3 separate regions of the Homo sapiens genome follow, and regions 2 and 3 are each linked to region 1. The links come from fine-mapping of genetic effects on gene expression. A gene starts in region 1. Each other region holds a variant in brackets. All regions are shown on one strand. Distances are between the middles of the regions.

Evidence for each region. PIP is the estimated chance that this variant, and not a neighbour inherited with it, causes the effect. A credible set is the group of variants that fine-mapping cannot tell apart.
Region 2: its variant is the best candidate, but not a certain one, in a credible set for the expression of QDPR in skin (TwinsUK, PIP 0.75).
Region 3: its variant is the best candidate, but not a certain one, in a credible set for the expression of QDPR in whole blood (INTERVAL, PIP 0.59).

Annotation. Positions count from the first base shown.
Region 1 is chr4:17,505,648-17,516,668 of GRCh38, reverse strand. QDPR (quinoid dihydropteridine reductase) reads left to right here and starts at 4,579. Exons shown (of 7, transcript NM_000320.3): 1 at 4,579-4,719; 2 at 7,306-7,398. The coding sequence starts at 4,615. CLRN2 (clarin 2) reads right to left here and starts at 1,504. Exons shown (of 3, transcript NM_001079827.2): 1 at 1,150-1,504. The coding sequence starts at 1,402. RefSeq lists a silencer at 4,371-4,950.
Region 2 is chr4:17,542,595-17,552,694 of GRCh38, reverse strand. It overlaps the pseudogene NACAP5. Among named protein-coding and RNA genes, the nearest start is that of LAP3, 30 kb to the left of the region's middle. RefSeq lists enhancers at 3,032-3,151, 7,327-7,923. The variant C/T (reference allele first, on the strand shown) is at 4,538.
Region 3 is chr4:17,487,061-17,492,400 of GRCh38, reverse strand. It overlaps QDPR (quinoid dihydropteridine reductase), which reads left to right. Exons shown (of 7, transcript NM_000320.3): 5 at 61-169; 6 at 1,656-1,739; 7 at 5,165-5,340. The coding sequence ends at 5,270. Among named protein-coding and RNA genes, the nearest start is that of QDPR, 22 kb to the left of the region's middle. The variant T/C (reference allele first, on the strand shown) is at 2,654.

The sequences.
Region 1 (11,021 bases):
TCTAATCTAATTGCTAGGTAAATATAAATATGCCCAGACATATTGATCTTGAATATACATAACAAATGTAAATTTTTGTGTGTTTAAATGATGACAATTTGTATTATATTTGTCAACGGTTCCAGCTTTTTGTCCTTATAAATTTAATACGACATTTACCTTGGCCAGATTTCTATAAACTACTACAATACTGAAATATAGAAATCAAGGAATGAATACAATTCTGTATCACCCTACATTGGCATGGTATTGATTAATTACGGTTTTGTGCAGACACTTTTCACCAGTGATCTCATCGATTCAAAAGGCTTGCAGAATATTGCCTGTTTTGTTTTTTCCTTTCCAGAAGCCCGTTCCTAAGTCCAGCTTGGATTCCTGTTTGTGCAGACTGCTCTGCTTACATCCTGGGCAGCTCTGATGCTACACTGAATGCCAGCCAAAGTCGGTGCCCGCTCACGTTCACAGAGAACAGGCAAGTGCCTTGCTTGAGGTCTCCCCACCAGTAAACTTTCCAGTAGGGGTTTCAGCCAGGGTAGTCTGATTCCAGAACCCAAGCACAGTGCCCCTTTGCATTTTCTCAGACTATGAAGCTTTTACAAAAGTAGATGTGGAAAGGGTCATCATGCTTCCCAAAGGTTCAGTTCTGCAGGCAGCCTCCACCCACTTGTTGTGGTCATGTGGCATGGGTCTGGAGTCCGGCTCTACTGTTTCCTGGCTGGGTGACCTCAGGTAAGTTATGTAACCTCTCCAAGCCTCAGTGTACTCCTCTGGAAAATGGGAACATTAACAATTCCTTCTGTATAACTTTGTTGTAAGGCTTTAAGGAGACAAGTGGCGTGAGGTGCTTACAATGTCTGACACGTGTAAACTCTCAATATTTTAATAGTCATAATTAATAGAGGTAAACTGCAAAAATGCACAAATCCTTATTTCTAATGTTTCTATACATCTCTACAGAAAAAGAAAAGGAAGCAAGGAAGGAAGGAAAGATCTTTTTGATGTGGATCCAGAACCCTTGGCTCACTGTGGACTTTGACATTATGCCTGACGTTGAGGCAGCAGCCAAATTCCACAATGAGACATAAGCACTCTTACACATTAACAAAAATGAGTGCCTAGAATCAGCTTTCATGCTCCCAATATACTCACTCGTGAATTGGGATTGGCGGCCCCCAAGCCCACACTGCCGCACTTTACACCCTCGGAAGAGCCCGTAGTAAATGTCCCCAATGAACTTGACCAGCTCTCTGTCTGTGGCGTTGACCAGATCCACTCCAGTCTGACAAAGGATTTTCCCACTCAGCCAGTGGGGCACTACCAGGGCAACGATGATCAGGATGAAGGAGGAGAAGCTGAGTAAAGACGCCAGCCCATACCACGCCTTTTTGAACCATCCAGGCATGCTAGTGGGTGCAGGTCATCCCCAAGGTCTCCGAGCAGCAGCGAGGGTCATTGACATCTTTCAGATACTCGGCAATGCTCTGCTCCAAGGTCAGCTCTTCCAAACACTCTGTTTCAAGGTTGTAGGTCCATCCTCTCGTCCTCCTTCAGCGCAAGCTTGCACAGTCCATGCTTCCTACAACCACATCCAGAAGCCTCTACAGAGACAATCTTCACCTGACTATGTAGCGGAGTGTGTTACTGAAGGAAGTAACCTTATATCTCCTCCTAGACTAATGTTTCAGCAGACTGTTTAACTGTTCCTCGTTTCAAGTATTTAAATAGCCCTGGTGTGGACCTCGTAATGATAAAGGAGTTAGTAATAAGCAAAATCAGGTAGCTCTGAAGATTAAGAGACGCAAACCAATCTCAAAAAATGCATGTGTTAGAAGGAAAACAAAAACAGAATGATTAGCACTTGAATATTGCCAACAATGCGCAGTATCAAATGTCGATCTCGCTGATGCATGGGTGCCCTGGCATTTCTTTCTCTGAAATGTCACTGCTGTCAGAATCTTTAGGACTGTTATTAATACCATCAAATGACCCCGGTTCTTGGGGCTTTAATATTGAAATGTGTAAATAGGGCCTTATGAATTTCTCACTGTGTGAATCTGCTGGGGGTAAACTGTGACTAGAATTACTTTGTGGCTGTTGGGGTAGCCTGGAATCCAACACTTAACATTGCTCTCACCCGTCCCTCCTTCTACGTTATCTGAAATGGGAGAGAAAAGTGTTTTTCTAGTGTATTAGCAAATAGTAGCCACACTGCTGGGGTATTCATCTCTTCTAATAGTGGAAGATCTAGGCTTTCCTTTTAATCTGTAGATACTAGGAATGAAATATTCTTTCCTTTCTATCTTATACTGTGGACTTTGACATTTTGACTTTTACCTTATTCCTGAATATCAACTTAACATCATGTGAGACTGGCAACAGTCACTCTATCCATATCTCTGGGGAGCAAAGTTGGGCAAAAGTGGAGCAGTAAAATTTCTTAGTTGGTCACAGAAGCCTGAAGGGGGGTTCAGGAAGTTGCACTGTTAACCAATAGGGGTCCCAGGAATCTCACTTGGAGAGTGTCAAGGAAGCAGAGGGACACATTAATGGAAATGTCAGTTTCCTTCCTCGCAACTGGGGCTCACTTCAGTGGCCACTCCACAATGAAAATAAAAATGAGAATTTCTGAGCCTGGGCAATGTAGTGAGACCTTATCTCTACAAAAAATAAAAAAAAAAAATAGTTGGGCCTGATGGCGTGTATTTGTAGTCCCAGCTACTGGAGGCTGAGGCTGGAAGACTGCTCCAGCCCAGGAGCTCAAGGCTGTAGTGAGCTATGATCATGCCACTCTGAGTAACAGAGTGAGATCCTGTCTCTTACTATATATACAGATGAGTGGCACTTTACCATGTACAAAATGCAAAATGCTTTGACCATATGCTTGCTCACCTCTGATGCTCCAGCAACCCTTTAAGGTAAACAGGAGATGCACGATTTCAGCCATTTCTCTCATGAAAAACTGGATGTCAGTGCTGGGGCTGAAATTCAGGTCTTTGAATTACAACAGCTCATCTTCATCCCAGTGACTTTGAAACAGCAAATGTTTTTCTGGTAAAAAATAACAGAATACATATAAAAGGCTCAGAAGACTGCTTGGCACATTAAGTGATCAATAATGTTAGTTCACGTTCTTATTTTAACATTAAGCATGCTTTGACAAGTCAGGACTTGCGTAAATATCATTGAGTCATATTTCTGCCGTCAGTGAGGGACCTGTGTCAACTTTTGGTGTTTTGAGGGTTAAGCAATTGTTTTCAGAAAAACTCTAAGGGAAACACTTGATTCCCAACAAGCCTTTGTCTTGCTGAACAAAGGTGTGGTTAAGTGGAACTCTAGCTATTGAAGACCTGTGTTCAAATTCCCACTCTTCCAGACAAGTGTCTGTGACTCTCATGCCTCAGCTTTCTAATCTGCATAGGATTATCGTGTGGAGTAAAGTGAAATAGCACAGGCAGATCACTTAGCGCAGTGCCTTGGATATAAGGAGCACTAAATAGATGGTGCTCTCCTCTCCATCCAGCCTCCTAGCAGTTCTATTTCTGATAATGAAGCTTCTGACAACAAAATGTGCTGCTGGCTGCATCCTCTTCTCTAGTGACATATTTCTGCATGCTTTACCTGGCACAAGTTTACTGAACAAACATCTGTGTCTGCTGTGTACAAGGTTATATGTGGATGGGAAGTGACACAAAGATGTATGTAATACAGGGTTCTGCTATCAAGAAGGTTATGAGAGTGTTAGAGCTCTGGTTCTCTATCAGTGATGAATTTGCCCCTAGGAGACAACTGTTAAATCTGGAGATATTTTTGATTCTTATGAGTGAGGGGTAGGGGTTTGCTATTGATTTCTAGTATATGCAGGCCAGGGATGCTGTAAATATCCTACAGTACCCAGGGCAGCACCTGTCACAAATAATTATCTGGCCCAAAATGTCAGTAGTGCTGTAGATGAGAGGCTCTGTGTTAAAGATACAGGCCATGGGCAGAAATAACTAATATACAAGGGAGAAAATGCCAGGATCTGTGTCTGGCGATGGGTGGCATATAGTAAAAGGGCCATTTGGATTAATGGGTATAAATTTACGGTTAGATAGAAGAAATAAGACCTAGTGTGGTTTGTCTCGTCTCGGCGGTGGACTTTCAGCTCCTTGAGCGGAGCGACCTCTTCTGTTTTTTTGGCAGGTGGGAATACTTAAATCTCTATTTTGATGCACAATTAAAAATAAAAAATTGCCAAAACAGTGGTCGAAAATTGTACTATACTATATTTTACATGCTTACACTTCACAAATTAATGCTCGTAAAACACCCGCTCTCCACCCTCCTCGCCCTTAGCCCGGCTCGCTGCACGCCCCGAGGCCCAGCACTTGCTGGCGGGTGGGAGGAGGGGCTTCGCCGATGTCCCCGTCCCAGGGGCAGGGCCTGGCCGAAGTTACAGTCCCTCCGGGTGGCGGGGCGCCCCGAGCGTGGCAGCGCGCTAGGCGGCAGCAGCGGGCGCGGAGCGGGGCGCGGCCGCCGCGCGTTCCCTCTTGGCGGGGTTGGCCGGCCGGGGCGGGGCGCGGCGCTCCGGCTCGAGGCATTCGGAGCTGCGGGAGCCGGGCTGGCAGGAGCAGGATGGCGGCGGCGGCGGCTGCAGGCGAGGCGCGCCGGGTGCTGGTGTACGGCGGCAGGGGCGCTCTGGGTTCTCGATGCGTGCAGGCTTTTCGGGCCCGCAACTGGGTAATGCTGCGGGCTGGGGCTGCTGGGTCTCCGCGGGGGTGGCCGGGGGCTTTCGTGTGGAACCCGGCGGGGGGCAGTCTAGAGGAAGGTGGGGGCCCCTGTGCACCCCCTGACTCGTGTTGCTTGCACGTGCGCGCACAGGTCTACGCGTCTATTCCTGTTTCCGAGTGCGTGCGCACGCCAGTCCCAGGGCGCTGGGCCTTTGCTGTGCAAGGAGGTGCTCCGTGGGCCTCCGCCAGACCCAAAAAGTCCGGCGTGACTCGGGAGAGAATTCCAAAGGGGAGGAACGGGAGCAGGGGTGAGAGGACGGAGAGAGAGTGTAGAAGGAAGGCTCTAGAATGAGACAGCCCAGTCCCGGTTACTAGTCATGAGACCGCGTATTGATTACCTAACGCCGTAGGACCTCGGTTTCCCCATTTGTACAACGGAGATTCTGACAGTGAGAGTTGGGACGATTAGATGAGATAATTGGTGTCGTTGCACATAAATTACCTGACGCCTGGTAAAAACTGTTTAAATGCTGTCTATTAATGTTACTATTACTACCCACCCCTGTTCTTTTAGCCCCATTGGATCTGACAGTTTGAAGGCTCAGCACGGAAAAACGCTGACGGCTTCTTTGCTCTGCAAAGACTATTTCAACTACTTTGCATAGTCAGGTGTCAATTTCCAGGAGGCGGCAAGTCGGAGCAGAGCTGATACATGGCCAAAGACCCTTGACCTCAGCCGCTCAGCAGGCCTCAGCAATTTCCCGGTGGAGACACTGCCAGCGGCAGCGTTCTGGGAGCTTAGTTAGCAGCAGCAGCACAGCAGCCTGGGCAAGAGTTCCCCTGGGACCAGAAAAAGGCTTTCAGGATTTTCTTTAAAAAAAAACTATCTAATTTTTATAGATGAAGGGGGCAAAAGTACAGTTTAGTTACATGGATATGTTGTGTAGTGGTGAAGTCTGGGCTTTTAGTGTAACCATCACCCAAATAGTGTACATTTACCAAGGTTTTCTTGTTGCTCAGAATCTGGTACAGGAATATGCTTCTGAAGAATTCAGTCACACCACTCCCTTCCTGCCACCCATCTGCTCAGTGCTTGGGGACACTGATGAGGGCGCTTTCCCAGGTCTTCAGAGATGCATGGTGGTGACAGAGGCAGCACTTCTGCCAAGGGCCAGGCACTGTGTTCCCAGTACCAGAGTTCCCATAGACTCTTAATGCCCCCAATATCTTTAAGGCAGTAGATCCTGTTAGCGTCATGTGTTAGAGGGTGAAGGCTGTGCTTTCTCCTGGTGGTGGCACTTTGGTTTACCTTGGTCTTGGCAGAATCTGGAGAGCTGATTTACCTCTGGCTCTTGGTCTTTCCCCTCCGAGCTTCTTCCTGCCATCTTAGGGAGGGCTAGGATGATGGAGACTTTTCATTGTTTCAGTATCCCCCATGGGATAACAAGTTAATTAATAATATAACAAATGTTGATGAATAGATGCTGTGTTTACAGCTTAAGGTAGAGATAATTATCTCTGGGGACTTCAGACCAAGAGACCCTGAGTAAGGACTGAACATCCCCTGTGCCAGGAGCTTTAGCATCTTCCATTTCATTTAATTCTTACACTGACCCTGTTAATCATCAACAAACAACCTCTTTTGTTGGGAACCTCTGCCCGGCATCGGAGTGAGAAAGCCACTCTGGCAGAGCTGGGATTCAAACCTGATCTGTCTGATTTCCAATCCTAAAGTCCATCCCTCTCTGCTGCAGGACAGGGATCCTTTGTGAGCTGAATCTGGTCTGCCACCTGTTTTTGTACAGCCCAAGAGTTAAGAATAGTTTTACATTTTCAGGTGGTTGAAAAGAAAATCAAATGAAGAATTATATTTTGTTGTATATGAAAATTAATGAAATTCACATTTCAGCTCTGAAGATTTATTGGAACACAGCTGCACTTATTTTTTCCCCCTATTTATTGCTGTGTTCTGTTACAATTGCAGATTTGAGTAACAACAGATACCATATGGCCAGCAAAGCCTAAGGTAATTGTGATCTGGCCCTTTACAGAAAATTTGCTGGCCCTTGATGTCTCTAGAAGTGCAGGGTTTGTGTTTTAGAGGTGAATGTGGAGGCGGAGTAGAGTGTTTGGAGGTAGGAGGGCCTGGGATGGAGCCCAATATAGGGTGTGTTTTCATTGAAGCCTCTTACCTGTCTCCACTCTGCTCCTTTATTTTTCTTTCTTTTTCTTTTTCTTTTATTTAAATGGAGATAAGGCCTCCTTCTGTTGCCTAGCCCGGAGTACAGTGGTGCGATCATAGCTCACTGAGCTCAAGTGATCCTCTCGCCTCAACCTCCCGGGTAGCTGGGGCTACAGGCATGTGCCACCACACCTGACTAATTTTAAAATTTTTTTGTAGGGACTGGGTCTTGCTATGTTGCCCAGGCTGGTCTCAAACTCTTGGCCTCAAGAGATCCTCCCACATTGGCTCCCAAAGTGCTGGCATTACAGACGTGAACCACTACACCTGGCCAACTCCCCTCATTTCTATGTGTGACTCTTTCATGGAATAACAACTCACTGCCTCTTAACCAAAGCTGTTTTCTCCTTCCAGTGGGTTGCCAGCGTTGATGTGGTGGAGAATGAAGAGGCCAGCGCTAGCATCATTGTTAAAATGACAGACTCGTTCACTGAGCAGGCTGACCAGGTAGTTTCAAAAAGGCCCCCAAACATTGTGAGGGGAACCCTGGGGAGAGGTGACCACTGGCTGTATGTTCTTCCTTTGGCTGTATGTTCTTCCTTTTATTTCTTTTTTTCCCCGAGACGGAGTCTTGCTCTGTCGCCCAGGCTGGAGTGCAGTGGCATGATCTCCGTTCACTGCAACCTTTGCCTCCTGGGTTGAAGCAATTCTCCTGCCTCAGCCTCCTGAGTAGCTGGGATTACAGGTGCCTGCCACCACCCCCAGCTAATTTTTTGTATTTTCAGTAGAGACGGGGTTTCACCATGTTGGCCAGGCTGATCTTGAACTCCTGACCTTGTGATCCGCCCGCCTTAGCCTCCCAAAGTGCTCGGATTACAGGCATGAGCCACCGCGCCTGGCCTGTTCTTCCTTTTTTTTAAAGCTGTTGTTTCTCTAACTAGGAAAGCCATTTGTGTTCATTGAGGAAAATTTGGAAAAAGTGAAAAATGATACAAAGATAAATTATATAATCATTTTGAGTTAGTTCACTGTTAACATTTTGGCCTATTGTCTTTTTCTATGCATATTGTATGTTACTCCTTTTACAAGTTTAGGTAATTTTGTATTTTATAGTTTATGGTAAGCTTTGTTTTTTTTTTTTTTTATACTTAAATAATTCTCCAGATTACTGAAAAAACCTCTTTGTAGATGTGTGATATTCCATTTTATGGAATGGCCACAATTTATTTAGTTTGTTTATTGTACATTTGAGTTTTTTGCAGGATTTTTGTTTTACTATTGTCAAGAATGTTGTGATGAACGTCTTTGTCTACATATCTGATTATTATTGTTTTTTGTTTTAAGAGAGTCTTGCTCTACTGTTGACACTGGAGTGCAGTGGCACAATCTCAGCTCACTGCCACCTCTGCCTCCCGGATTCAAACAATTCTTGTGCCTCAGTCTCCTGAGTAGCTGGGATTACAGGCATGCACCCCAATGCCCAGCTAACTTTTTTGTATTTTTAGTAGAGACAGGTTTTTGCCATGTTGGCCAGGCTGGTCTCGAACTTCTGACCTCAAGTTATCCACCCACCTTGGCCTCCCAAAGTAATGGGATTATAGGAATGAGCCACTGCACCTGGCCCACATATCTGATTATTTAGGATACATTCTAAAAAGTGGAGTTACCCAGTTCACAGCAGGAACACTAACAAAACAGGTTATTTTTAATTATAAAATGATATGCATATTATAAAACAAAAGTCCAACAAAACTACGTAAATATAGAAATAAACTGTGAAACTGTCCCTTTTCTCCCCATCATAGTATCATTTCCCAGAAGGATGCACTATTAACAGTTTGATGGATATCCTGGTATAAATATCTTAGATGCTCTAGGCTGGGTGCAGTGGCTGACACCTGTAATCCCAGCACTTTGGAAGGCTGAGATGGGCGGATCACGAGGTCAGGAGATCAAGACCATCCTGGCCAACATGGTGAAACCCCGTCTCTACTAAAAATACAAAAATTAGCTGAGCGTGGTGGTGCACGCCTGTAGTCCCAGCTACTCGGGAGGCTGAGGCAGGAGAATCACTTGAACCTGGGAGGCAGAGGTTGCAGTGAGCCAAGATTGTGCCACTGCACTCCATCCTGGGTGACAGAGTGAGACTCTGTCTCAAAACAAAAAAAAAAAAAAGAAAGAAAAATCTTTGATGCTCTTAAGCAGTGCTTAACTTTCTTGAGAAGCCCTTCTGGTGAGCTGCCTGGATGACTTTTGAGTCAGGTTCTCACTGTGTTGCCCAGGCTGGACTGGAACTCCTGGGCTCAAAGGATCCTTCTGCTTCATTCTCCCGAATAGCTGGGACTTCCTGAGTAGCCACTGTGCGCAGCTGACTCTGTGTTTAATGGTTTTTAGTGCTGTAGCCCACATTCCCAAGGATAACTTCACATCACTATGTGAAGCGCCTTATTTTCCCAACCACTCAGTGTGGCAGGCAGGCAGGCCATTTTACAGCTGTGAAGACAAGTTTGCGCGACTAAGTGACAAGGCCAACAAGCTACTCAGTGGTGGAGTCAGGATCATAGGTCTCCAGATACGAACTTTAATAAGTTCAGGTGCCACTTGGTCTGTACGTGGGTCTGCTTTTCATTTAGTTGCACTTTCCTTGGTAATCTCAATACTGATGTTTTATGATCCTTATCTGGTTTTTATAACAAATTTTTAAAATTTTAGAAGTGATGCATGTATGATATAGAAAATACAAATAAGCAAAAAGAAAAGGGAAATCATTTATAGTTCTACCATATAGTTAATCATTTATTTATATTTCCTTCCAGTCTGTCTCTCCAAAATATACATGTATAAATCTATACATTTTGAACATAAAACTGTGAGCACAACTCTGCTACTCATTTGCTCTTTCTAAAGTGTCAGTTTGACATAGATTGGAATGTAAAAGCCAGATGACTTATTTTAGCACTTCATTTTTGTTGTTCTTATTTTTCTCACTGTGGTCTCAATGTTCCCATACCTAAGTCATACAGATTGACCTTAGTGAATTTAATAGTGAAAGTTGACATGGCATCATTGTTAGTTGCCAGGCACCATTCTCAGTGCTTTATTTTCATTAACACGTGTAGTCTTCATTACATCCCCAAACAAAGCTTCTAATTTTATCCTCCTTTTAAATGGGGGTAACTGAGGCACAGAAAGGCCCTGGTATTTGTCCAAGGTCAAACAGATAAAAGGTTGCATAGCCACTATTTGGACATGGGCAGTGGGGGTCTGACGGCTGTTCTCTTAACTGCTATGCTAAGCTGCCTTAAAGCAAAATAGTTTCATGTGAATAAAGTAATAAAGGCCAAAATGGCTGGGTGCAGTGGCTCATGCCAGTAGTCCCAGCACTTCAGGAGGCTGAGGCAGGAGGATCACTTGAGCCCAGGAGTTTAAGACCAGCCTGTGCAACATGGCGAAACCCCATCTCTACAAAAAAATACAAAAATTAGCTGAATGTGGTGGCACACAACTGTAGTCCCAGCTACTCGGGAGGCTGAGGTGGGAGGGTGGCTTGAGGCTGGAAGGCAGAGGTTGCAATGAGCCGAGATCATGCCACTGCACTCCAATCTGGGCAACAGAGCCCAACCTTCTCTAAAAAACAAACAAAAAATAAAGTAATAAAAGCCAAAACTAAATGGAAGGGCGGTTCCTGGGCTTGGAGAGCAGCAGCCCTGCCAGGTGCGGGTCTCTGTAATTGGTGTCTCTTCAGTGTCTCTTCTGCTCTGATTAATTATAGGTTTCTAATGTCCCTGTAGATTGAATGTGGAGGTTGTCCCCACCCAAGGCTTGGCAGTAGAGTGCATCTCTAAGACAGAGATTGAGAGATGCGTTTGTGCTTATAAACTTTTCTTTGAAAATCTCTTCCTTCTTCTACTACTCCACCAAAGGAAGAGGAGTACCTTCTCCACCATACCCCCAACCTTAAGAATTTCTGAACAAACAGCATAACATTCAGTTTTGTCATGAAACTGGGGAAAGAGGTAATCAACTGAAATGTTCCTACTGGGAGAGACACAGGGTGTTGATTTAAGTCTTTTTTAAAAAAAACTAAATGTAGAGATGAGGTCTTGTTATGTTGCCCGGGCTGGTCTTGA
Region 2 (10,100 bases), 36 kb before region 1:
CAGGTGGAGACCGGGTCTGGAACAGAAGCTGACAGTGATAAATCAGTACCAGAGCTCGAGGAACAGGATTCCACAGAGATACCACACAAGCAGCCCAGCTGGCAGCAGCAGCTGAAATCAATGAGTGTCAATCAGTAAAGCAAAACAGAGTTAGAGTGAAAAGAAGGCACGTAAGGCTATGTCCAAACTCGGTCTTCCGTAGATAACAGGGGTTACTACAGTCACTACTGGAAATCTAAGAATATCTTCTTTGTCATCACAAAACCAGATGTCTACAAGAATCCTGCTTCGGATACCTATGTGTGTGTTTTTGGGGAAGCCAAGATCAAGGATTTATCTTAACAAGCATGGGTAGCACCTGCTAAGACACAGAGTGAGCTGTCTCAAACATTCAAGAAAACACACAGACTCCAACTATACAAGACGAGACTGGAGAGGAAAAGGTTGATGATACAGGTGTGGAAGTTAAGGACGTAGAATTGGTCATGTCACAAGCAAATGTATTGAGAGCAAAGGAAGTCCGAGCCTTGAAGAACAAGAGTAATCATATTGTAACTGCTATTACAGAATTAACAATGTGACCACCTGAAAATGACTGTTTTTGTGTGTTTCAAAAGAATAACTGCAACTTGGTTTGAAATTTGTACCTGTTTCTATCATAAATAAAATTATGGCTTCTTCTTGGAAAAATATTAGAATAAAATAAACATTCAAATTATGCAAAGTCCCACAGTCACTGCACTCCCAGCCCAGGCGATTATTAATGGCCAACCACTTGCCTTTTAAAGAATTTCTTGGCATTCTTCTGCTTCCACAATAAAGGAGACTAATCATCTTTTCTCTTATTTTCACCTCTGTCAGGTCTGGGATCTTCCTTTAATACTACCCTGGGCCAAGAGCAGTGGCTCACACCTGTAATCCCAGCATTTTGGGAAATAGAGGCAGTAGTATCACTTGAGCCCAGGACTTGGAGACCAGCCTGGATAACATAGTGAGACTCCTGTCTCTACAAAAACTACAAAAATTAGCCGAGTGTGGTGGCACAAGCCCATAGTTGAGGCTGCAGTGAGCGGCGGTGGCACCACTGTACTCCAGCCTGGGTGACAGAGTGAGATTCTGTCTCAAAATTAAAAAGAGAATAATCTGGTGTCCCTGAAATGTAAGTGACTGTCCTGAGAAATCCTGATGCCTTTTTTTATTTTTAAACTGCAGAGGTCCTTTGTGAATGAGAACTCTTGTTTTCTTTTCTTTTCTTTCTTTCTCTCTTTTTTTTTTTTTTTTTTTTTTTTTTGAGATGGAGTCTTGCCCTGTCACCATGGTGGAGTGCAGTGGTGTGATCTTGGCTCACTGCAACCTCCAACTCTCTGGTTCAAGCAATTCTCCTGCCTCAGCCTCCCGAGTAGCTGTGATTACAGGCATGTGCCACCACGCCCGGCTAATTTTTGTGTTTTTAGTAGAGACGGGGTTTCACTATGTTGGCCAGGATAGTTTCCATCTCCTGACCTCGTGATCTGCCCACCTTGGCCTCCCAAAGTGCTGGGATTATAGGTGTGAGCCACTGCGCCTGGACTGTTTTCTTGTTTAGCAGTTTGCTCATCTACATATACTTTCAGAGACAAACTGTTCTCAGTATTGAGGATTACAATAAACTCCTTTCTCTAATAAAAGAACACTGACTGAAAAAAAACCCAAACGTATCATTACAGTTATCAATACGTCAAATGTATGCTTGCCACGATTTTTCATATGACAAAGTAATTTTTCTTTTTTGGTAAAATAATTTAATTCTAATTTGGTCTTCACTATTGGGGTTGAATTTAAGTTCTTAACCATTCTGGTCCTTATATTTTCTTTTTTTTTGTTTTTACATCCCCATGAACACCAAGGAAGCTCTGTATATTTTCTGTGGCAACACCTGCAAACTTGTTTACCTCAGCAGTTTGCAAATGCCAACTCTAAACCATCAACTGGGTAACTCCAAACACACACACCACACACACACTCCTCTCTCGCTCGCTCTCTCTCTCTTTCTGGAGTCTAGCTTCCTTCTTTCCTCTCCTCCCTCTCCAAAGAGATTCTGATTTAGTTTTAAAACGCTCACCAGGTAATTCTGACCATCAGCCAGGTTTGGAAACTATTGAGATAATTCCTCACATCTGTGTCGGTCTATCTACCCATCCTGCTTTCCTTATTCCAGAAGAGATTTAAGGTGTTGACTTAATTAAATACAGTAATTTGGGAAACCATTTAAGAAAATAAAATATAAACAGTGGTTTCATCTTTATCTTCTTTCTCATAATTTTGTATTTTTTTAAGTTTTCTGATATATATTATTACAGTGATAATCTTTAAAAAGAATGAAACTTTATAGATATAAAATTGAGTTTGGGCAGGGTGTGGTGGCTCCCGCTTCTAATCCCAGCATTTTGAGAGGCCAAAGAAGGCGGATCACTTTAGCTCAGGAGCTCAAGACCAGCCTGTACAACATGGCAAAACCCCATCTCTACAAAAAATACAAAAATTAGTCAGGTGTGGTGGCGCACGCCTGCAGTCCCAGAGACTCGAGAGGCTAAGGTGGGAGGATTGCTTGAGCCCGGGAAGTGGAGGTTGCAGTGAACTGAGATCGCACCACTGCATTCCACCCTGGGTGAGAAGTGAGACCCTGTCTCACAAAAAAAAAAAAAAAAAAAAAAAAAAAAAAAGGCCAGTCACTTGTTAGAGTTGCTGGGCCTATGTATTATACTATTTTATCCTTGATGAGTTATTAATCAAGTATAGTAATTTGATTTTTACAACCCTGCGCTGACACAGAGGACCAGAGAGAAAACCTTTATGGCTGTGACGTTACAGGTTACTGGTAGGATGTAAGACCTCTAAAATTCTTTTTTTTTTGACAGAGTCTCGCTCTGTCGCCCAGGCTGGAGTGTAGTGGCGAGATCTCGGCGCACTGCAAGCTCCGCCTCCCGGGTTCACGCCATTCTCCTGCCTCAGCCTCCCGAGTAGCTGGGACTACAGGCGCCCGCCATCACGCCCGGCTAATTTTTTGTATTTTTGATACAGACGGGGTTTCACCGTGTTAGCCAGGATGGTCTCGATCTCCTGACCTCGTGATCCGCCCGCCTCGGCCTCCCAAAGTGCTGGGATTACAGGCGTGAGCCACTGCGCCCAGTCAAGACCTCTAAAGTTCTAACAGTTTTTGTTTCCTAGGGTCCTGCAACACCCCGCTGAGAAATAACCCTCGTTATACTTAGCAACGTTATCTAAAATATTAAAAGGTATTTCCTTACTCAATTGGAACTTGAAACTGGAAGCATAGTGGAATCACAGAGTGACTCTGAGCTGAAAGAATCATTCAAGATTCCTTGATCCAACCGGCAGCCCCACGCCCGCTGAGACATGATGAGTTTATGGTCAATCGATTGCTTCCCCCTAGTGGCAAACGGTGGTCATACCACTTTCATTTTTAGACATGTTTAACCTTAGAATCATAGTTTAGAAATTATTTTGCACCATGGATTGCTTTGATATGATTATTAAAACATATACGGTGTGATAGTATTATATAGTATCCATGGTAAAACTATTAGCTAATGCATTTAACAATCACAGCAACAATACCTAAGGCAGTCAAAGCTCATTACTTCTCTAGTTTCTTTCTGATTCACTTATGAAACAATTTATCCCTGATTTATAATATTCCTCCTAAGTCTTAAAGAAAATGCACATAGTTGTGTAGTTATAAATAAGCTCTGTTCAGAGCAGACCACATTATAAGCCAGTATGATTAAGATTCCAGAAATGGCAAATTGCCACCAAATAATTATAGCCTTTGGTAACAAACAGAACAAAACAAAAAAGAAAACAATGACACTTTTAACTACCAGATCCAGGATTTGATAAAATGATCATGCCCAGAACGAGCTTTGTCATTTTGTGGCAAATTGTTCTTAAAGCCTCAACTGAACTCAACAAAGCTTTAAAATCATCTTTTGATTTTAAAAGTGGCGTCCCAGAAAAGCTTATATATAATTATATATATATATATATTTTTTTTTTTTTAATGCTGCCTTATTCAGTTTTCAGGAAATTTTTACATGTATGGTATTATTATCATTTGCCCCTTCAACTACTCTCCTTGGTAGACAGGAAAGGTATTAGTATACCTTTTTTTTTTTGAGATGGAGTGCAGTCACACAATCTCGGCTCACTGCAACCTCCGCCTCCTGGGTTCACATGACTCTCCTGCCTCAGCTTCCCCACTAGCTGGGATTATAGGCATGCACCACCACCCCTGGCTAGTTTTTATATTTTTACTGGAGATGGGGTTTCCCCATGTTGACCAGGCTGGCCTCAAACTCCTGCCCTCAAGTGATCCACCCATCTCGGCCTCCCAAAGTGTTGGTATTACAAGCGTGAGCCACCACGCCCCGCCAATATACCTTTTTTACAGTTGAAGAAACTGAGGCTCAGAGATATCACAGAGCAATAGGGTCCCAGAAATGGGACAAAAATCATGGTTGTTTCACTCTTCTTGAAA[C/T]GCTTCAGACTTTTACATCCAACTGTCTGCTACGCATTTTTACTGGGATGTCTCATCCACAGGCCCTGAGATCCACCTCATCCCTGGATCCCGTTACAGGTAGTGACACTGCCTTCTACTCAGTCGTCAAACAAGAGGTCTGGGAGACCTCCCCGATCCTTTCTTCTCTATCCTCTCTTGCAACTGATGTCTTGCTGATTTTCCTGACCCTCCTCCACTTCGTATTGTACCCTTGTATTAGAGTGCTAGGGCTGCCACAGACTGGGTGGCTTCAACAACAGAAATTTATTTTCTCATAATTTTGGAGCTAGAAGTCCAAGATCAAAATGTTAGAAAGGTTGGTTTCTTCTGAGGACTCTCTCCTTGGCTTGTAGATGGCTGTTGTGTCAGTCTATTTTACGTTGCTATTAAAGAATACCTGAGGCTGGGTAATTTATAAATAAAAGAGGTTTATTTTCGCTCACAATTCTGCAGACAGAATGCTGCAGAATCTTATACTATGCTTCTGTATAAGAAGCATAGTAGGACAGGGGTGGTGGCTCACACCTGTAATCCCAGCACTTTGGGAGGCCAAGATGGGTGGATCACTTGAGGTCCAGAATTCCAGACCAGCCTGGTCAATGTGGGGAAACTACATCTCTACTAAAAATACAAAAATTAGCTGAGTGTGGTGGCACACACCTGTGATCCCAGCTACTTGGGAGGCTGAGGCAGGAGAATCACTTGAACCTTGGAGGCAGAGGCTGCAGTTAGCTGAGATTGTGCCACTGCATTCCAGCCTGGGCAACAGCACCAGATTCCATCTCAAAAAAAAAAGAAAAAGAAAAAGAAAAAAAAAGCATAGTGCTTGCCTCTGCTTCTGGTGAGGCCTCAGAAAGCTTGTTTTTTGTTTGTTTGTTTGTTTGTTTATGTGAGACAGAGTCTTGCTCTGTCGCTAGGCTGGAGTGCAGTGGCGTGATCTCAGCTCACTGCAACCTCTGCCTCCCGGGTTCAAGCGATTCCCCTGCCTCAGCCTCCCGGGTAGCTGGGATTACAGGCATGCATCACTACACCTGGCTAATTTTTTGTATTTTAGTAAAGACAGGGTTTCACCATGTTAGCCAAGATGGTCTCGATCTCCTGATCTCGTGATCCTCCCACCTTGGCCTCCCAAAGTGCTGGGATTACAGGCTTGAGTCAACGCGCCCGACCTGGAAGTTTTTACTCGTGGTGGAAGGCAGAGTGGGAGCAGGCCTGTCACATGGTGAGAGAGAAAGCAAGGGGGGAGGAGGAGCTGCCAGGCTCTCTTAAACAACTAGCTCTCCTGTGAACTAATAGAGCGAGAATTCACTTGTTACCACGGGGATGGCCCAAGCTATTCTTGAGAGATCTACTCTCATGAGGGATCTGCCCTGTGGTAGCGAGCCTGTAATCCCAGCTGCTGGGGAGGCTGAGGCATGGGAATCTCTTGAACCCGGGAGGCGGAGCTTGCAGTGAGCCGAGAACACGCCACCGCACTCCAGCCTGGGCAACAGAGCGAGACTCCGTCTCACAAAATAAATAAAAGCCCTGTCTCCAAATATGTCACATTGTGAGGTACCCGGGGTCAAGACTTCAACATAAGTTGGGGGGGCGGTGCAGGGCATAACCCTGCCCATGACAGCCCTGGTTCATTTCTGAACTGGTTGAAGGCTGCCTCCCTCTGCCCTTGACGCCGCACCACCTTCCTGCCTGGATCCTCTGCTCCCATGTGCTGTCCACATGCTGCTCGAGGACTCCTTCTAATGCGCCACCTATCCTGCTTCTCAGCCCTCAGTGAAGCCCAGTTCCTTCACAGGACGCAGGAATCCTTCTCGAACCTGGCCCTACCTTTCTCGCCTGCCTGTGTTCCTTCCATACTTCTTGTCTTGCGCTTGTCCCAGTGGGTGCTGAACTGCTGTGACCTGGCTGTGCTGTTTCCTGCCTCGATACCTCTGCTTCTATTTATGCCCTCACCCTGAGTTTTTTGCCTTTGCCTGCCTACCCCTTATTCATTCTTCAAAATTGACAGTGAGAGGGAGACTTTTGTGGTTCCTTGAATTCCATCCCAGCTCTGGCTTCTGGACCAGAGAGACTTGCGTGCACGCACAGAACCCAGCGCAGGCAGACGGCATGTGGACAGATCACAGGTGAGCAGATCGCAGTAGGCATTACCTCGGGAACAGTCTGTTAAGGACATGCTGATCACTGCACCAAAGAACTGTCCCCGTACCCCAGGGGGTGTCAGCTGTCTAGGCCAGGTGGCCTGTAGGAGCCACCTCCCTTCATCAGGCAGGCAAAGCTACTGTCTGGTTTTATTATGTCTCTCTTAATACAGAGGCAATTCAATTTCTTCCCACTTTTGGCTGGCTATATAGAGATACATATATATTTTATATGTTTATATACATTTAACAGATTCATACCTGTGAGGCTGATACAAATTTATGAAGATATTAATTTATACCTACCCCCTGACTTTCCCCATTCAAGCTAGCTGCAGGCCTCACCTTAGGGGAAATTTGCGGCAATGTGGAAAACAGAAGAGCTATCGCTGACTTTGCAGTAAGTACTCTGGGTTATCTAGATTGTGATTCATACCCAGTACAGTGGACCCAGGGTTCCATCGAACTTGCTTTCACAGTTTAGCCAACTCCAACCTCATTGCTGTAGCTACTTTAACCCCAGCTAAACTTTAAAATAATAGCACATAAGCACTTCCATACTAGCAAATTTACTGTAAACTTACCCTCGCCCCAGCATGTAATTACCTTTTTTTTTTTGGGACAGAGTTTTGTTCTTGTTGCCTAGGCTGGAATGTAATGGCGTCATCTCGGCTCACCGCAACCTCCTCCCAGGTTCAAGCTATTCTCCTGCCTCAGCCTACCGAGTAGCTGGGATTACAGGCATGTGCCACCATGCCCGACTAATTTTGTATTTTTAGTTTCTCCATGTTGGTCAGGCAGGTCTCTAACTCCCGACCTCAGGTGATCCACCCACCTTGGCCTCCCAAAGTGCTGGGATCACAGGTGTGAGCCACCCCGCCGGGCCATGTAATTACTATTAATGGTTTTGTTTGTAAACCCCACTGCTTCCTGATCCAGGCTGTGTCAGGATCAGCTCTGGCCATCCTCCAACCTCATGTTATCATAAAATACAATGTTTGTGTTTCTAGTTCCTGGTCTGTAAACTTCCCAAACAATGTCATCTTCATCTTTGTATCCCCAGGACCTGGCATTGTGCCAAACACATAGTAATGTTCCCAAAATAATCTGTTGAAAACAAAATGAAAATAATTGGATCTATGGGATGACAGGGCAGGGACAATGAAGTAACTATTTGGAATAATTTTCAGTAAGAAGCTTTTGTTAATGGAGGTGGAGAGTGGAGGTAAATGTCCAGAGGAAACAAAATTAGCCATGGGCTGATAATTATTGAAGCTGGATAATAGTTACCTAGAACTGCAATACTGTAGTTTCTATGCATATATATATATATATAAATTAGGCATATTAAATACATATTCACCAATAAAAAGTAAAAAGTGAAAACAAACCCACGTCTGTTTACTAAGAAATGAGTGTGAGAAGGAAGTGCTAGTTCTATAATGAAGCAGGCTGTCATTTCTGCTTGTTTACTTTGCATTTCAGCACAGCGGCCCTTTGTGAGGAACAATGACAATGACTTCCACCTCTTCCGGGGAGAAGCCCAGATGAGGAGGTCAGTTGCTGTGGCCTGTCAGCCCTAGAGGTGATGTCACCGTCTCCCGAGGACAAAACCTTCATTTAGCTGCAAGAGGGAACAGTTGAGTAGTAAAGTGCTTATTGTTGTGGGTCATCCTTTGGCTCAGATTTTGTAAACAGATTCATCTTGAATGACTGCATGCATAGGGATTACAGGAACGACTGCATTGTCTGAAATGACAAGCCTGGAAATTTCCACTGTAGGGGGATGTCATGGGATTCACTACTGGTATAGACATTAAAACTTACAAAGAAGAAAATTCTGTAGAAATAAAGACATGCTTAATATATTTATTTGAAGAAAGCAGAAGGAAAATAAGTCTGATGTGTATCGCATGGGAAGAGGGACATTATGACGGCATAAAAAAGTTAAAATGGGCCAGGCGCAGTGGTTCATGCCTGTAATCCCAGCACTTTGGGAGTCCGAGGCGGGCGGATCACGAGGGCAGGAGATCGAGACCATCCTGGCTAACACAGTGAAACTCCATCTCTACTAAAAATACAAAAAAAAAAAAAAATTAGCCAGGCGTGGTGGCAGGTGCCTGTAGTCCCAGCTACTTGGGAGGCTGAGGCAGGAGAATGGCGTGAACCCAGGAGGCAGAGCTTGCAGTGAGCCGAGATAGCACCACTGCACTCCAGCCTGGGCAACATAGCAAGACTCCATCTCAAAAAAAACAAAAGTTAAAATGTTGAGATATTATGCCACAACATGGATGAACCTTGAAAACACTAGGCTAAGTAAAAGAAACCAGTCATTGGTTATACAATAACCATATCTGGTATAATTTCACTTCTATGAAATATCTAGCACAGGCAAATTCATAGAGACAAAAAGTAGATTAGTGGTTGCCTAGGGCTGCATGGGGAAGAGAATGAAGAGTGATTACCAATGGGCAGAAGGTTTCTTTTTTGGGTAATAAAAATGTTCTAAAAACGTGGTGACATTGCACAATTCTGTAAATATACTGAAAACTACTTGAGTTGTACATTTTAAATAGCTGAAATTTATGCTGTAAAAATTCTAGCTCAATAAAGCTGTCAAAAATGCTGGGGGTATTGGGAAAAGAGGATTCTTTTTTAAAAATTGTCTTATTGCATCAATTTATTACATTTTCAATAAACAATACAAAATGTATTTTCACATAGTAAAAATCCAGCAAGGATACATCACATTCACCAATGATAATAAATATTTATTTTTGAAAACCCAGACAGTGTATTTCTGATAAATCTTAAAATTGAAGATATTCAAAATTCAGTGCAATCAAATTTCCATTGTCTGTTTGACAATTAAACACCAGTGTGGAGTGCATTTGGTTTTCTAGCAGGTACTGCAGCAGCTGCTGATGGCCTCTTCTCTTTTTTCTCTGTTTCTTTGTCAAGGATGAAGTTGGCAAGAGTTCGCATGCTAGCCAGTGCTCCAGGGTGAGGGAGCAGTGGTCCCTAATCTCAAATGGGAGTTAAATTGGTCTTCCCAAATCACTACCATGGCCCAGTTGTTATTTTAATGGTGTTTTCCTCATGGTTTTGTGTGGCATGGTAGCAAAATGTTATTGAGTTGCCTTCATTCTTCTGTTATCTCTAACCACATATCCAGCTTCCTGAGTTTCTCTTTTTCATTTATAAAATAGGAACGATGACAGTACCTGACTTAAAACTCTACCATGTTAAAAAACAACAACAACAAAACGGTAGCTCTCTCAGGTTGATTCCAAGGCTGGGATGGGGAAAGTACTAAATGAGCCTAGACTCTTGCCATGCCATAGGCGAGGAAGTGCTCAGATAATGTTGTGGGCATGTCAAAAGAACAGGAGCTGGCTGGA
Region 3 (5,340 bases), 21 kb after region 1:
TGTCCTTGCTGTCCCCCTGGCCGCCAGTGGTCACTGAGCCATCTTCTCCCCATTTCCCAGGTATGATCGGGTACGGCATGGCCAAGGGTGCTGTTCACCAGCTCTGCCAGAGCCTGGCTGGGAAGAACAGCGGCATGCCGCCCGGGGCAGCCGCCATCGCTGTGCTCCCGTAAGTGCTTGGGGTTCCCTGGCTGCTGCCCACCTCTGCCCCACTGCTGCAGGTGACCGTTTGTCTGACTGTAGCTTTCCACAGGCGACCTGGGTGTGCTCTCACCTCTGGTTCTGAAACACACCAAAGTCTCTTAAGATACTTATTATCTTAATCTGTTTGAATTGCTCTAACAAAATACCTTAGACTGGGTGATTTATAAACAGCAGAAATGTATTGCTCACAGTTCTGGAGGCTGGGAAGTCCAAGATGAAGGCACCAGCAGATTTGGTGCCTGGCGAGGGCTCATTCCTCATAGATGGCGCCTTCTATATGTGCTCACACGGTGGAAGGGGCAAATGGGCTCCCTCCAGCTTCCTTTATAAGCATGCTAATCCCCTCCTAAAGGCCCCCACTTGTCTCCTGCAGACCCCACCTCTTAATACTATTATGTTGCAGTTTGTGTTTTGTATGTGAGTTTGAGGGGGATACATTCAGACCATAGCAATACTTCCAGTTTTGGGTTCTCCTGGGCTGTCCAGAATGTTTGATTGGCTGGTTGGATGGGTCTGTCTTTTTTGCCTCTTTTTTTCCTCTCCCTTTCTTTTCTCCCTTCATTTCTTCCTTTAAAATTAGACTACACATTTTACTTTTTTATATGTAGTTCTGTCTTTCAAGTCATTATATGGGGTATGTATGTGTGAGAGAGAGAGAATATGGGAAACTGTTGGAGGTGTTTCTGTTGGTCATCGGGGGACTGTCCCCCATCAGCTGTCCCAGGCAGAGGCAGCTGCTTTGGAGGGAGGCTACTCCTTCTCGCTGGAAGGCTTCCAGCACCAGCAGGCTTGCCTCTTGCCTGTGGTCCTATAAAGGGATGCTGAGACTGTAGGGACTGCACTGATTGACTTTCTGGTTCCCTTTTAGTTGTGAGGTTCTGTGATTCTGTGACATGATTCCCACAGCTGTTTTGAATGATTCGAATGATTCCTGAGGCCTTGATGTTCTTGGGAGATTCATGCATATCTGAATTCTATATTATTCTGCCAAAAATCTTAAGGTTTTGTGGAAAATAGCCACATATTTAAAATTTTAGTATTTTAGTATTCTCATATTTAAAGGCATATAACTATCTTAAATCCTTAGAAATGAGTGTGCTGCATGTTAGGGAGTGAATAAAGACACAGCAACAAAGCAGTTTAATTCAGTGAAGACTCTTTTTTAAAAAGGCAAAATGTGGCTCCTTCTGTTTTGTTCTTATCTGCCTAAGTGGTGAGCCACAGCGCACCTTATTGAATTATGCTCAGATCTGGCCTTTGCTAGCGGGGACAGCTTCCTGCTCTCTCTCTGCTTATCTTTCTGTCTGATCTTTCCATGTAAATAGCACCCTCAGTGCCAGAGGCTCTAGGTTGTCCTGCTGTATGTTTGCGTTTTCCTGGCCAAGGGGGACTGGGCACCTGTTGTTAGAAAGGAGCGACATGAATGACGTGCTTATCTGTGTCCATTGCAGGGTTACCCTGGATACCCCGATGAACAGGAAATCAATGCCTGAGGCTGACTTCAGCTCCTGGACACCCTTAGAATTCCTAGTTGAGTGAGTATTACAGACATGTCCATGACTGAGCAGCTTCCAGCCCCTATTCTCTGCCTGCTGTGGTCCAGAGGACAAGTCTGTGTTCCCTGAGATCGTCAATCCGGGTGGTCTTGGGAGGTCTCTGGGACTCTGAGGATGCATTGCACATCAGACGGAATCTCAGAGTAGCTGGACTTGGAGACAGGCAGCACAGTGGCAGAATGGGTAGTGCCGACATGAATCCTGGCTCGCTCCCTCACCACCGGCCATGCTGAGCACATTATTGACCTGCTGAGGCCTCAGTTTCCCCACCTGTATCATGAGGTCCATCATGCTTGTTAGGATTAAACGTGATAGTGTGCGGCAAGCACTCAACACAGTGTCTGGCCATAACAAGTGCTCAGTGATCCCCAGCTGCAGTTTGTGTCCTTACTGCTGTGATGAGGAGACTCCATGGGGGAGGGGGACACCACGTAGATGGCCTGGGGGCACATATCTGAATCTGTGTCAAGCCACAGACCCACAGAAAGTGCCCTTTAATTTCCGAAATCCTTTTTGCCCATTTGTGAATATGGGTGGCATTTGAACGCTCATGGGACAGAGAGCTGAATTCCTCTTTTGTGTTTGTTTAGGTATCAGTTCCTCAAGCCCCTCTAGTTAGTAAGCATGTGTTCATCGAGCACCCACTATGGGCCAGGTGCTGCCCTCGGCTCTGGGGTCACGGTGAGGACAAAGATGGGATCCCTGCCCACAGGGAGCAGGGGTGCCGAGAGGGTCAAGGTGACAGCCTGACCCAGTAGTGCCTCTGTGTAAACTGCTTTGACGACTGTTTATAAGAGATGTTTGTGAAGTTAGCAGTGTGCTTCTGGCCTGATGTCACAATCTCATTTAAATTAAATCGGGAGAAATTTGGGACTTGCGTTTTATGTTTGAAA[T/C]GTGTACTTACAGAACACTTTTTATGTCCCAGTCACCATTCTAAGCACTTCATAACTCTTATTTAATGCTCATAGCAAACTCTGAGGGAGGAGCTGTCATTTTTATTTAAGGCTTAGAGACTTGGAGGGATGGCAGGGGCTAAGTCACTCGCCTAAGGTCACACAGCACAGCCGGGATCTGACACAAGTGGTGTGGCTGCAGAACCTATGGTCTTAACTGGTGTGCTGACAGTTATTTCTGTCTATGCCAGGAATCATGCTTCATGCTTGATTTGCAGGAAAAAAATTGAAGTTGTAGAGGAAATCAAGCTTTGAATTGTGTTTGTGTTTGAATTTCTTTTTAAAGGCCGACACTCCCACCACACTTGAGATACTGATCTAAGACCTACTCTAGATGGAACATCTGGGATCTTGTGTCTGAACTCGTGCTGAGCCACAGACCCACAGAGGACGGGCTGTCACAGGCCCCCTTTTGTTCTAGAGATCACATCCACCCATTTGTGGTATTTGAAAACTCTCAGAAAAGCTGGCATAAAGTTTGCTTTGAGATGTCTGTGAGCACATCCTTCCTCTACCATCCCTGGTTAGAATGGCGTTCTCACTCACCTATCCACGCTGCAGATGAGGGTGAAGAAGTAAAACCATTTAAAACATGCATCGCAGCAAACCAACATGGCACATGCATACCTGTGTAGCAAACCTGCACGCTGTGCACATGTAGCCTAGATCTTAAAGTATAAAAAAACAAAACAACAAAAAAACATGTGTAACCAACACACAAAACCCTACACAACCAAACGGCACTGGTCTCTTTCAGAGCCTTCCCTCACCAAGCCCTACCCTGTCCCCAGAGATGAGGCCATGACATGACAGTACTTTAGAGAGTTTTAGCAACGCTTTGTTTTTTGAGCCCATGTGCTCATATGAGCTTGTTCAAACCCCAGAGTAGGGGCCTGAATGACTGGACCTTTACACATCAGCGCTGGCCCAGAAGGTTACAGATTGGCACTGGGAGTCTCCCAGGAAGGAAATGCTGAGCACTTTTTAGTTAATGAAGGTCCGAAGTCTCAGCTGGTGAATTGTCAAAATGGATGATGTACTCAAATGTAAATGTTTTGTGTTAAAGAATTATCATCTACTTCTTGTTTCTTGTGAATTTCTTTTGCCCTTTTTCATTCCTGTCTTCTTAGAGGGTCTTTTTGACTGCTGCAAGTGGGGTCAGTTGCTCCTCTCCTCAGATTTGTGAAAGGCCCTGTTACTGTATTTAACATTTTATTGTAATAGTCTGTTTTTTTCTATCTCTTTTTCCATTGTTTGGTGCAGCTGTGGGTACTCTATAAATGTTTGATTAAAAAAATGCCAAATAAATGAATTGCATCTGTTTCTCTCATAAATTTATGAGAAGGTAATATAGCAAAGTATTGTGCATGTGTCTCTCTCTTTGAATGAACTAATTAAAATCTTTAAAAACAATTTTTTTTTTTTTTGAGACAGGGTCTCACTGGGTCACCCAGGCTGGAGTGCAGTGTCACGATCATGGCTTACCCTAGCCTTGATCTCCGGGGCTCAAGCAATCATCCCACCACAGCCTCCTGAGTAGCTGGGACTACAGGCATGTGCCATGCCCAGCTATTTTTTGTATTTTTTTAGAGGTAGGGTTTCACCCAGTTGCCCAGGCTGGTCTCAAAAACTCCTGGGCTCAAGTGATCCACCTGCCTCAGCCTCCCAAATTGCTGAGATTACAGGTGTGAGCCACCACGCCTGGCCAAATTAGAATCTTTTAAAATCACAAAAGAATTCCAACAATGTAGAAAAATACCAAAATGAAAGTTAAACTTATGCCAAATCCTGCCACTCAGAGATTAGAATGAGTACACCACTGAACTCACTGGGGGCCTGGGTATGTGTCCATCATGCCTACTGGCTTTTATTAATTTTTTATTATTTTTTGGAGATGGAATCTTGCCATTGTGTCCAGGCTGGCCTCAAACACCTGGGCTCAAGCGATCCGCCCGCCTTGGCATCTCAAAGTGCTGGGATCATAGGGGTGAGCCATAATGCCTGACCTTTAGTGGCTTTTATTTATTTATTTATTTATTATTTTTTGTGAGACGGAGTCTCATTGTGATGCCCAGGCTGGAGTGCAATGGTGCAACCTCGGCTTACCTCTGCTTCCCGGGTGCAAGTGATTCTACTTCCTCAGCCTCCTGAGTAGCTAGGATTACAGGCACGTGCTACCACGGCCAATTTTTGTATTTTTAGTAGAGATGGGGTTTCATCATATTGGCCAGGCTGGTCTCGAACTCCTGACCTCAAGCGATCTGCCCGCCTCGGCCTCCCAAAGTGCTGGGATCACAGGTGTGAGCCATGGCGCCCAGCCCTTAGTGGCTTTTAAACAGTCGCTGCTGTGCCACCCCTTCCCCCCACCCCACAAGCCGTCACTGTGAAGGTCAGCATGTGCCCAGATTTTTGCTTTGAGAATATAAAAAAAACTTTTATTTTCTGTTCCAGAACTTTCCATGACTGGATCACAGGGAAAAACCGACCGAGCTCAGGAAGCCTAATCCAGGTGGTAACCACAGAAGGAAGGACGGAACTCACCCCAGCATATTTTTAGGCCTCATCTCAGTGCCTATGAGGGGCCTGCCAGAAAAGTCACTAACCTGTCTCAGTGTGGCCTTGTCCAG